Linked DNA regions of Homo sapiens: region 1 is linked to region 2. Evidence: fine-mapped expression QTL. A gene starts in region 2. The other region holds a variant in brackets. All regions are shown on one strand. Distances are between the middles of the regions.

Region 1 (5,366 bases), 48 kb before region 2:
ACGCTTCCTGCACCTCAGTGCACAGGGTTCCGGGATGAAGACAAAATGCTGGCATGGAGGCTGCCCCAGAAAATCCAGCCCGCTAACCGTGGGCCACCACCTCCCATCTCAGCCTCTCCACTCAGGACCGTCCCTGCCAGATCCTATGCTGCTTCTCATCAGCAACTTCGGACAGCCAAGCGTGCTGCACATGGGACACGCTCCTACCCACCAGGAGCCTTTGATTCTGGGATAAGACTCCTGGCATGAGGAAGACCCGCAGATCCTCCCTACCTGCACCCACCAAGGGCAAATGCCCTGGAACCTTCCTCCAGACCTAAGGGCAAAATAGAGGGATATGCTGGGGCTCAGAAAATGATACCCCAAGGCCTGTGGTTTTGGCACACTGAGGAACTGCAGGACACCGGAAGGGCCTCAGAGGCAAGGGCTCTCTGACCCTCTGGCCCCTTCCCTTGCCCGCACCCCACCACCCCTCAAGGTAGGCCACGGAAAGTAGAATGCCTCTTCCCCAGTGCAGGTCATAGAAACCAGAACCCCTCTCCTGCGAGGCCAGCCATAAAACCTAGAAATACGGCCAGGCTCTGTGGCTCACGCCTGTAATCCCAGCACTTGGGAGGCTGAGGCAGGCGGATCACTTGAGGTCAGGAGTTTGAGACCCACCTGGCCAACATGCCGAAACCCCGTCTCTACTAAAAATACAAAAACTAGCCGGGCATGGTGGCACACGCCTGTAATCCCAGCTACTGTGGAGGCTGAGGCAGGAGAATCGCTTGAACCCAGGAGGCAGAGGTTGCAGTGAGCCGAGATCGCGCCACTGCACTCCAGCCTGGGGGACAAGAGCAAAACTCTGTCTCAAAAAAAAAAAAAAAAAAAACTAGAAATATGACTCTAACTTTCCCTGGCCTTTGTGTAGGAGTGTAACTGAGCAGCTTAACTTCAAAATGCATTTTTAGACTTTTTTTTCCTTTCTCTTTAGTCCTGAGATGCAACCTTAGAGCAAACTGCAGAAGCCTTTTCCCTTAATCTTAAAATAGACTCCATACCCCTCCCCTTTCTCACCGTATACTCTCTTCACATGTGTCTGTGAGCTAGTCTCTAATTACGTGCTTACTTCGAAGTTCTAGGGACTAATCTTGAGACAGACCAAGCGTGGAAACCCAGCTGCAAAATCCCAGAGCTTACCTCAAGGTGAGCAGTCAAATCTGGCCACTTGTTGAGATGACACCAGCCCGCACTCCAGGTGGACGGAGGCCCAGGACAGCCGCCGGAACAAGACACACATTGTACTCAGCACGATCCCTGCGCGCCTCCCAGCTCAAGCTCCTACTCCCCACTTCTTAAACCCTTGCCTTCTCTCCAGAATTCAAAGTAGTTACTTTGGGTGGGAATCCAGCCATATCCCCATGACTAGTTCTGGTTAATAGTCACTTTCTTTCTACCAGACCTTGCTCTTGTCAACTGGACTCTGTAACTGGCGAGCACCCGGATCTGAGGTCCACTACAGGAGCCGGCCACAAAGACATCCTCAACACTACTTTATCTGAAAATGGATCCCAGACCTTCATTCCAGAAGGGCCCTGCCCTGTACCTGGAAGGAAGAAAGCTACACACGGGGCAAGGCTTCCCCATCCAGTCTACGATTAGATCCTTCCCTTCTGTCCAATCACATTTCTGCACAGCCACCCACTCTTCGTTGAATCTGAGTGTGAACATGCAGTTTCTCTTGGGTTTTTATTTCTGAAGGCTCCTGTGTCACCTAAGTCTTTACATACATTTTATACTTTTCCTTGGTAATCTATTCTAGGTGTTGGCTGTGCCCCTTGTGATGGGTGAGGAAAGGCATCCTCCTTTCTGCCCCTACAGACAGGTGACAGGGCTCTCTGAGGGCATCCAAGCTCCTTCTGGCTTTTCTCCATTATATCGGGGCTCTTCCTTTTAAGCACAAAACATAATACAAGAGCATAAAAATCTATTTTAATTCTTTTAGAAATTACCACACATGCCTTCTTCCTAAATAGACAGCTCCCATATCCAGGTTACAAGCTTGGGCTCAACGACACGGCTAGGGGTTAAGGAACTCGCTCCTGGGGACAGCAGGCTGGGAGATGAGGGGCAGAGAAACCCTTACCTTACCACATGGCAGGCATCCCCCGGGCAACCCTGAACAAGGGCAGGCTCTCTCTCTAGGAGTTCATATGGAAATCTGTAACTTCCTCAAATAAAACTTGACTTTTTGAGAAAAGATGAACACTGTACCACTGACAACCATTTAGATGAATGACCGTGGGGAGAACAAGAAGGTCTTTTTCAGTCAGAATTTGCGGGTCCTGGCAATTAGGTTTTTTTGTTTTTTTTTTTTTTTCTGAGACAGGCTCTTATTTTGTCACCCAAGCTGGGGTGCAATGGCACGATCACTGCAGCCTTGACCTCCTGGGCTCAAGCAATCCTCCCATCTCAGCTCCCCAAGTAGCTGGGACTACAGGTGCACACCACCATGACCAGTTAATTTTTTATTTTTTGTAGATATGAGGTTTCGCCATGTTGCTCAGGCTGGTCTCAAGCTCCGGAGCTCAAGCAACCCGCCTGCCTCCGCCTCCCAAAGTGCTGGGATTACAAGCACGAGCCATTGTGCCCAGCCTGGCACTTAATTTGTGAAAGCCACACCATTTCTAACAGGAACATAAAAATACCAGGTCATTTCAGAAGCCCCAGACTTGGGCAACTCCACTCACTAACTTGCAGCGTGCTACCTCAAAGCCAGTGTGGCACGAGGCTTCAAGCACAGCACTGGGGCTGCGCTGACAGATCCTGGTTCAAATCCCAGCTCCCAGCCCTAGAACCTTACAGTGACCTAAGTGCACCAAGACTCCCTCAACGTGTTCTGCTGCAGCCAGTGAGTCAGTGCACGTGCCCGGCCCATGAGCTAACTGAACTCATGGCTTCTGAATCTGAATGTCTCTAAATATCAGACAAAGCTGTATGAAAAAAGCCCCCAAGACTCTGAAACCAGATGGGATGCCAGTTATAAAACTTGTCTTTAAAGTTACCCATCCTGGTGAATGAGGCATCAGGAAGCTACTGCAGCTTGTGTCTGATTCAGAAAGGTGGATACCTTTCCTCA[C/T]CCATCACAAGGGGCACAGCCGACACTCCTATAACAAAAGAGATTAACAAGAGAAAAGCGTAAGATTTATTTAAGTCTTACGTGACACAGGAGCCTTCAGAAATGAAGACCCAAAGACTCAAGAGAAACTGTCCATATTTACGCTGATTCAACGATCAGTGGACGGCCGTGAGGAAATGTGACTAGACAAAAAGGGAAGGGTCTAGGTCCTCAAACTCAACATCTGAAATGTGTATAAAACAAGAATTCATCTGCAAATAATCAACTTACTTTTATTTAGAAAGGTTTGAATTTTGAAAAGTAGCAACTGTCAAATTTAAGAAAACTGATCTTAGGTCAGGCATGGTGGCTAGGGCCTGTAATCCCAACACTTTGGGAGGCTGAGGTGGGAGGATCACTTGAGCCCAGGAGATTGAGACCAGCCTGGGCAACATAGTGAGACTTCATCTCTACAAAAAAAAAAAATCAAAACACAGCCGGGCATGGTGGCACATGCCTGTCATCTCAGCTACTGAGGAGGCTGACGGGGGAGGATCTTGAGCCTGGGAGGTCAAGGATGCCGTGAGCCATGACTGCACCACTGCACTCCAGCCTGGGTGACAGAGGAGACCCTGTCTCAAAAAACAAAGGAAAAGAAAGCTGATTTTACTTTAAAAACTAAACCAGAAATCATGTTTCATATTGCAATCTTAAGCTTGTAACTTTTGACTGTCAAGATAGGTCTTATTTGTATAATTCTTTCCAATAAGGCAGATAATGATTACCAAGCGCTTAAAATGTATTACAGTTGTTTCAGAGATTAAACATTTTTAAGTTATTAAAATGAGGCTTTCTAATTATAAAAACATGCTATTTTTTAGTCTACTCCTCAGCAGACTTAAGACATTTTTGTAAAGAACGGAAATGGCAAATAACTTTTTTCCTTCCTTCTTAATGATCAATCCAGTGGGACCAAGGTGGACTTCCTGATGGTTCTGCAAGGCTCAGTGTTCAACAAAAAAAGGCAAAAACATGTAAGTCACACGTGGGCAAGGCAACTGAACCCACCAGGTCCTGTTATTTTATTAAGGAGCATTTACATTATGATAGCAAGTTTCAACACATTCATCAACAAGGCGGTCTTCAAATCAATCAGTCAACCCCCGGAGTTAGAAAGTAGAGTCATGAGGAAGAGCTGCTTGGCTGTAGGAAGTAGGGTTAATGCCCTCTAATCCCCGGAAAGGGGCAGACTGAAGCCAGAGCCAGAATCCTGGCAATTCACCAGTTTCTCATCACAGGTAAAAAGGCAACTGCATCCCACATAGCTCTGAGGGGGAGGCCTCCCGGGAGGGGCAAGCCTAAGGTTTGGGTGTCCCAGACCCTGGATGGAAGCCCCAGCTCCCAATCTGTAGCTGTGCCCTTGAGATAGCTGCTTTCTCCCCTCACCTGCAAAGGAGAATTCCACAAACTACCTAGCCTGTTTCACTGGTTTTTTTCTTTCCATTTTTGATCAAGAGTTTTTATTTTAAAAAAAAGTTCATTCCTGCAGGCTTATTTCCCCTAAACAGATAACAATTCCCTAAGAAGCCTTCCTACAAGGAAGGCACAAACACGCAAGTCAAGAGGAGTGAACAGCCCTGCCTGTATGAGGGCCTTTCTGGTTCCTATTCAACCAGCCTCTTCTAGAAAGGAAATTCTGACATTTGAGGTTTGGTTTCTAAGAGTTAACAGGCAAATAGATGGCAGCCCCCATCATCAAGAGCCTCCCCACAGCACCAGCTCTATCCTAAGCACCATGCAGCTTTAACCTGGCAGGATGCCACACAAAGCCCCACTACATACTCAAAAGAGCAGGCCAAGAAAGGGAGGGCAGGCAGAGCTGGCCACAGGCTCTGGCCAGGGTCCACGCTCCCAAAAACGCAGCAGTGCTTCTCGGAACAGAAATGTGTCCAGACATGAAAACCCTCCATACAAAGCCTGCCTGGAGGGTCCCTCCCACCACAAGCACCCAACGAGGCCTCACGTGTGGGACAACATCCAAATGACACATTGTCACCTTTCCTTGTGAACTGAACAGATTTCTCAAATTCAGAAAACAACTTTGTCTCTAGAATTTGGGGATCAGAGAGGATTTCAATTCTGATAAAACATTTCTACAAGAGCAGGCTCAATTATAAACCCATACGCAAACTCTCTTTTTGTTAGAAAATTCAATAGGGGAAGTTCAGCTGGGCTCAAGAATCTTACTTTACTTCCTAAAATACAC
Region 2 (5,366 bases):
TTCTTTAGTAAAGACGGGGTTTCACCGTGTTAGCCAGGATGGTCTCGATCTCCTGACCTCGTGATCCACCCACCTCGGCCTCCCAAAGTGCTGGGATTACAGGCGTGAGCCACCGCGCCCGGCCTAATATTCTTAAATGTCTCCATCTTCACCAAAAAAGCTGCAGAAATGTGCTCCTTCCCCAGATGCCACACATCATTTATCACGTGTCCGTTTGAACTAGTCACTAAGGAAAGTGCACATTGTTTCCTGGGCCATTTCAAGTACAGGCCAGCGGCAAGGATACAACATCCAAATGGTACTTACATTTAAACTTTTATCCATTTTGGCCGGGCGCAGTGGCTCATGCCTGTAATCCCAGCACGCTGGGAAGCGGGCCCATCACCTAAGGTCAGGAGTTCAAGACCAGCCTGGCCAACATGGTGAAACCCATCTCTACTAAAAATGCAAAAATTAGCCAGGCGTGGTGGCGGGCACCTGTAATCCCAGCTACTCAGAAGGCTGAGGCAGGAGAATCATTTGAACCCGTGAGGCAGAGGTTGCAGTGAGCCAAGATTGTGTCACTGCACTCTACTCCAGCCTGGGCAACAGAGAGAGACTCTGTCTCCCCCCCAAAAAAAAAAAAAAAAAAAAACACTTTTATTCATTTTGATAGTTTAAGGACTTTTTAAAACATGAAGCATTTAAAACAAACATGTAAAACAGACAAAACAGCCTTTCAGGTGATGGTAAATTCAAAACGTTTACTTAGGGCAGGTCCACACAAGACCTGCTCATTTCAAGAGGCCACTTCTGGTGACTCCTGTGATTGTGCTGATCTGTACTGGATGAGTCAGAGCCCAGCTTCCATCAGTGAGTAAATGTCACATGTCCCTCCCCAACCCCTGCTTTTTTCCGTAACAATTTCCCAGGTAAACCTGAAATGCCTAAAGAGCTGTTTAAATAACACTTTAATTTCATCACCCCCATAAAGCATTTCTAACCATTAGTCAGTAACTCGCACCCCTCCCCATTTCCAAAGGCAACACCCCATCTCACCTGCACTCTCCATTGCAAAATCAGAGTACTACTTGCCTCTAATTCAAATTCAGTCGGCAAAATTTCACTCAATTTAGATCAACAGGGCAGGTCACGGGGGCTCAAGCCTGTAATCCCGATACTTTACAAGGCCGAGGCAGGCGAATCACTTGAGCTCAGGAGTTCCAGAGACCAGCCTGGGCAACATGAGGAAACCCTGCCTCTACGAAAAATACACAAATTAGCCCAGCGTGGTGGACCGCACGTGTAGTCCCAGATACTCAGGAGGCTGAGGTGGGAGGATCGCTTGAACCCAGGAGGTAGAGGCTGCAGTGAGCCGAGATCACGCCACTGCACTCAGCCTGGGCAACAGAGCAACAGCCTGTCTCGAAAACAAACAAAACAAAATTTAGATCAATAAGCATTTCTGGCCGGACGTGGTAGCTCACACCTGTAATCCCAACCCTTTGGGAGGCTGAGGAGGGCAGATCGCTCGAGTCCAGAAGGTCGAGACGAGGCTGGGCAACATGGCGAGACCTCGTCTCTATAAAAAAAAATAAAAATTAGACGGGCGTGGTGGTGAGCACCTGTGGTCCCAGCTACTCGGGAGGATGAGGTGGGTCGATCACTTGAGCCTGGGAGGCGGAGGCTGCAGGGAGCCGTGATCGCTCCACTACACTGCAGCCTGGGTGACAGAGCCAGACCCTGTCTCAAAAACAAAACAAAACAAAGCTTTTTGCCTGTGAATTCCATGAACCATTCTACTTCCTACTGAAATACTAAGTGCCAACATCTACTGAGTGCTTCCTGCATACTAGGCATTGTATTATTTGTATTTTACATACGTCATCTCATTTAACCCTCACAACAACCCTGAGGTACTAACAGGTGCTAATCTATGTCACCGTCGGGAAACTGAGGCTTGGGCATGAAACGTGCCCAGGGGTTACATGGCTACTGAGTGGCTGCGGTGGGACTGGATCCCAGGCAATCCGACATAAGAGTTCCCATAACAACCGCTAATAATACAACTAAGAGAACAACTCAGTCCTTGGAGTAGTCTACAATGTGAGGTGGTATTATCACGGAGAGTCCACGTGCAGACCTTTCCCTGCAGGCACGCACGCTAGTAAGCATTTACTCGTAAGCATGCTTGCAGTTCAGAGCTTCTAGTCCACCCAGAAAACGCTTTCTATGCATTCCTCTGGATCTCCTTTTGTAGTCTTCCCAGGGATTGAAGACCTGGACACCGGCGCCAAATCTGAACAGACTCTCACTACACCAGTTCATGGAACAGGAAATCTCTGTCTCCGGCAACAGGTTAAGTCTGAAGACTGAGGCTACCTGCTGTCCAACAAACTTTAAAGGCTGACTTCAAAAGGCAGCCAGGCCTAGCTAATGCAACGGGGCCTTCCCTCGCCGCTCTTCCTGCGACAGGGGCGTTCCTGAAGGGAGGCTGAAGAGCAATGGGCCGACGCCGAGCCTGCCGCTCCCTCCCGGCGGGCACAGGAAAGGTGGAGCCCGCAGCCGTGGGTCCCGCTCCGTGGCGCGGAGGGCCGGGGTCTCGGCGCCGCCCCGTCCCCCGCCCCGCCACTGCGGCACGGCTGAGTCACCACCGCCTCCGTCCCGCGGCGGGGCCGCCCAGGCCAGAGGCCGGGAAGGTCGCGTCCCCCGGGCTTGGACAGCCGTCGGGGTCGGAGCCAGGGCTGGGGCCGGGGCTTCCAGGCGAGCCTCGCGCCCTGCTCGCTGTTCCGGGGCGGGGAACCTGCGGCTCGGGCCACTCACGCGGAGGCTCGGGGGAGTCTACGGGTGGCGCCGGGCCCGGTCCCCCGAGGCCGAAGGGAGCCGGGCACCAAGAAGCCAGGCTGGGCCACCCGCCGCCCCACACCGGCCCGGTCTCGCGGCCGCTCCCGCTCCGGCTCCTCACTCCTACCGCTCGCCGCCCCGCTTACTTGGCTTTGAGGCGCAGCAGCTCCTCAAACTGCCCGGCTGAGCCGACCTCCTCCACGGCCGCTACAGCTGCCTCAGCCGCCCCCGCCGCCATGCTGCCGCCGCCAGACAGAAGCAATCCAGTGCCGGCGGCCGGATGTGGGCGGGGCCACGGGGAGCTGAGCGGCTGCGCGAGGGAAAGCCCCGCCCCTGCCTGCGCTGAGGCTGCCGAGCCTGAGAAATCCCAAAAGGGGCCTCGGCGGCGGGCTCTGGATCCCGCTGGGGGGCTCTGACCCTGCCAAGTCTGGGCACTCCGCTGCGGGCCTCCTGGCTCCCGGGGTTCATGGCTGTTATGGTTCCTGGCTGTCGGGGCTCCTGGCTTTCGGGGCTCCCTGGCTGAAGGGGCTCCTGGCTGTAGGGGCTCCTGGCTATGGAGGTTCCCGGTTATAAGGGCTTCTGGATGTAGTGGATTCTGGCCGTCGAGGTCCCTGGCTGTCGGGGCTCCTGGCCGTAATGGCCCCTGGCTGTCGGGACCCCTGGGTGTCGGGGTTCCTGGCTGTCGGGACCCCTGGGTGTCGGGGTTCCTGACTGTAGGGGCTCCTGGGTGTTAGGGTTCCTGGCTATAGCAGGGGCTCCTGGGTGTCGGGGTTCCTTGCTGTCAGGGCTCCTGGTGGTAGAGGCTTCTTGCTGTTGGCTTCCTGGCTGTCGGGGTGACTGGGTGTCAGGGCTCCTGGTGTTAGGGTTCCTGGCTTCCTGGCTGTAGTAGGGGCTCCTGGGTGTCGGGGTTCCTTGCTGTCAGGGCTCCTGGTGGTAGAGGCTTCTGGCTGTTGGGGTTCCTGGGTGCCAGGGCTCCTGGGTGTCAGGGTTCCTGGCTGTCAGGACACCTGACTCCTGAGGCTCCTGGCTTTTGGGGCTCCAGACCTTCCTTGCACTTCCTGTGTCTCCTGGGTCTGTAATAGAAGGGGCCGGTGGAGGGGTGGGGGTGAGACATGTGAGTGAAAGTGAAGTCAGATGTGTACATTTAGGAAGCTGAAATTATCAAAAATGAAATTGCATAAAGGTGAGGAAGAACTGGGAGGTCTGGGAACAGAAGTGGTAGATCTTGAACTTCAACACAGACAGGGTGCTTCCAATTCAGTCCTGGGACCTGAACCCGGAGCCCACAGCATGTCCCTCCTCCCCTGGCCCTCCGCGCGTGCCGCCACTCATTGCAGCCCCACAGAGCCATCACCCATTGTAACCTCAGAACAGAAGGGGCTGGGTGGGTCCACAGATCCCTGCACTCCTCCCGTCTTGCCTCCTTGGATGATCCCTGGCTTGTCTTTCTCCCTTGGGAATCCCCCTGATGTTGGCTCTCCATGTGGTGTACTCTGTACCCCACACCCCATGCTTCCCACACACCTTCTGGCCTGAGTAATCTCCATGCCCCCAGTGACATCAACCTCCAGGGAAACCTCAATAGCAAGCCCAGAACCCTCCCCTGCATCCCAGAGCCTAGCATCCACTAACTTTGAGGAGGGGCCATCTTTTATTGGATATCCCCAAACCACACTGGGCCTTCCCTCCAAAGTGCCTCTCCTCTTGGTTCCCATCTCAGGGAACACCATCGCTCCCACCCAGACACTTGGGGCTCCTTCTGACTGGTCCCCCTGCTGTCCCTGGGCTTTGAGGCCAAGCCCCCACAGAGCCTTCCCTACTAGCCAGGTGTTCCCAGGCCTCCTTTGCTTGCTTCTACCGTGGCCTGTCTCATGTTGTAGAACTGTGCTTGTCCTCCATTGGCCTGTGTTCTTAAAGGGCAGGAGCTGATCTGTGTCTCAGTGCCTGGATCAGAGTCAGACACATAGGAGGTACTCAGTCCATGCTAACAGCTGCCAGAGGACTGGGCTCACTGGATTGCAAAGACTTCGTACGAGAAAAGTAGCATATCATTCATACTTTTTATATTGATTACATGTTGAAATGAGGATATTTGGATATATTCGGTTTTCTGAAATATATTATTTAAATTGGTCTCTTTTACCTTTGGCTCCTGAGAAATGTCTAATTTCATAGGCAACTTTCATTCGTGGCCCTTGAATTTTCTTGGGCAGCACTACTGTGGTGTTTAAAAGCCTTTTGGAGCCTGTCACATGTATACCTCACCTGGAGAAATACATGGTATTGAACACGGTAAATTGTGTTATTTAAAATGCAACAGGAGAGTGATGAGGAACCATTTTGTATCTTGCCTGTGGTGGTGAGAACACAAACTAAACATGATAAAATTGTATAGAACTTGGCTGGGTGCTCTGACTCACACCTGTAATCCCAACAATTTGGAAACCCCAGACAGGAGGATCACTTGAGCCGAGGAGTTGGAGACCAGCCGGGCAACATAGGAAGACCCGGTCTCTACAAAAATATATATATATATATGAGTC

Direction of the effects. Alleles are on the strand shown, and positions count from the first base shown. SD is a standard deviation of normalised expression in the study named.
For the expression in putamen of the gene that starts at base 3,091 in region 2, T is the low allele of the variant in region 1 and C is the other (small effect, 0.24 SD a copy in GTEx).

What was found. PIP is the estimated chance that this variant, and not a neighbour inherited with it, causes the effect.
Region 1: its variant is the best candidate, but not a certain one, in a credible set for the expression of GLRX3 in putamen (GTEx, PIP 0.61).

The regions. Positions count from the first base shown.
Region 1 is chr10:130,181,651-130,187,016 of GRCh38, reverse strand. LOC124902561 reads right to left here. Exons shown (of 2, transcript XM_047426136.1): 2 at 1-3,149. Among named protein-coding and RNA genes, the nearest start is that of GLRX3, 48 kb to the right of the region's middle. The variant C/T (reference allele first, on the strand shown) is at 3,122.
Region 2 is chr10:130,134,116-130,139,481 of GRCh38, reverse strand. GLRX3 (glutaredoxin 3) reads right to left here and starts at 3,091. Exons shown (of 11, transcript NM_006541.5): 1 at 2,970-3,091. The coding sequence starts at 3,061. LOC105378561 (a long non-coding RNA gene) reads left to right here and starts at 3,111. Exons shown (of 6, transcript XR_001747659.2): 1 at 3,111-5,366. RefSeq lists enhancers at 711-1,345, 1,346-1,981, 2,260-2,309 and a silencer at 2,510-3,109.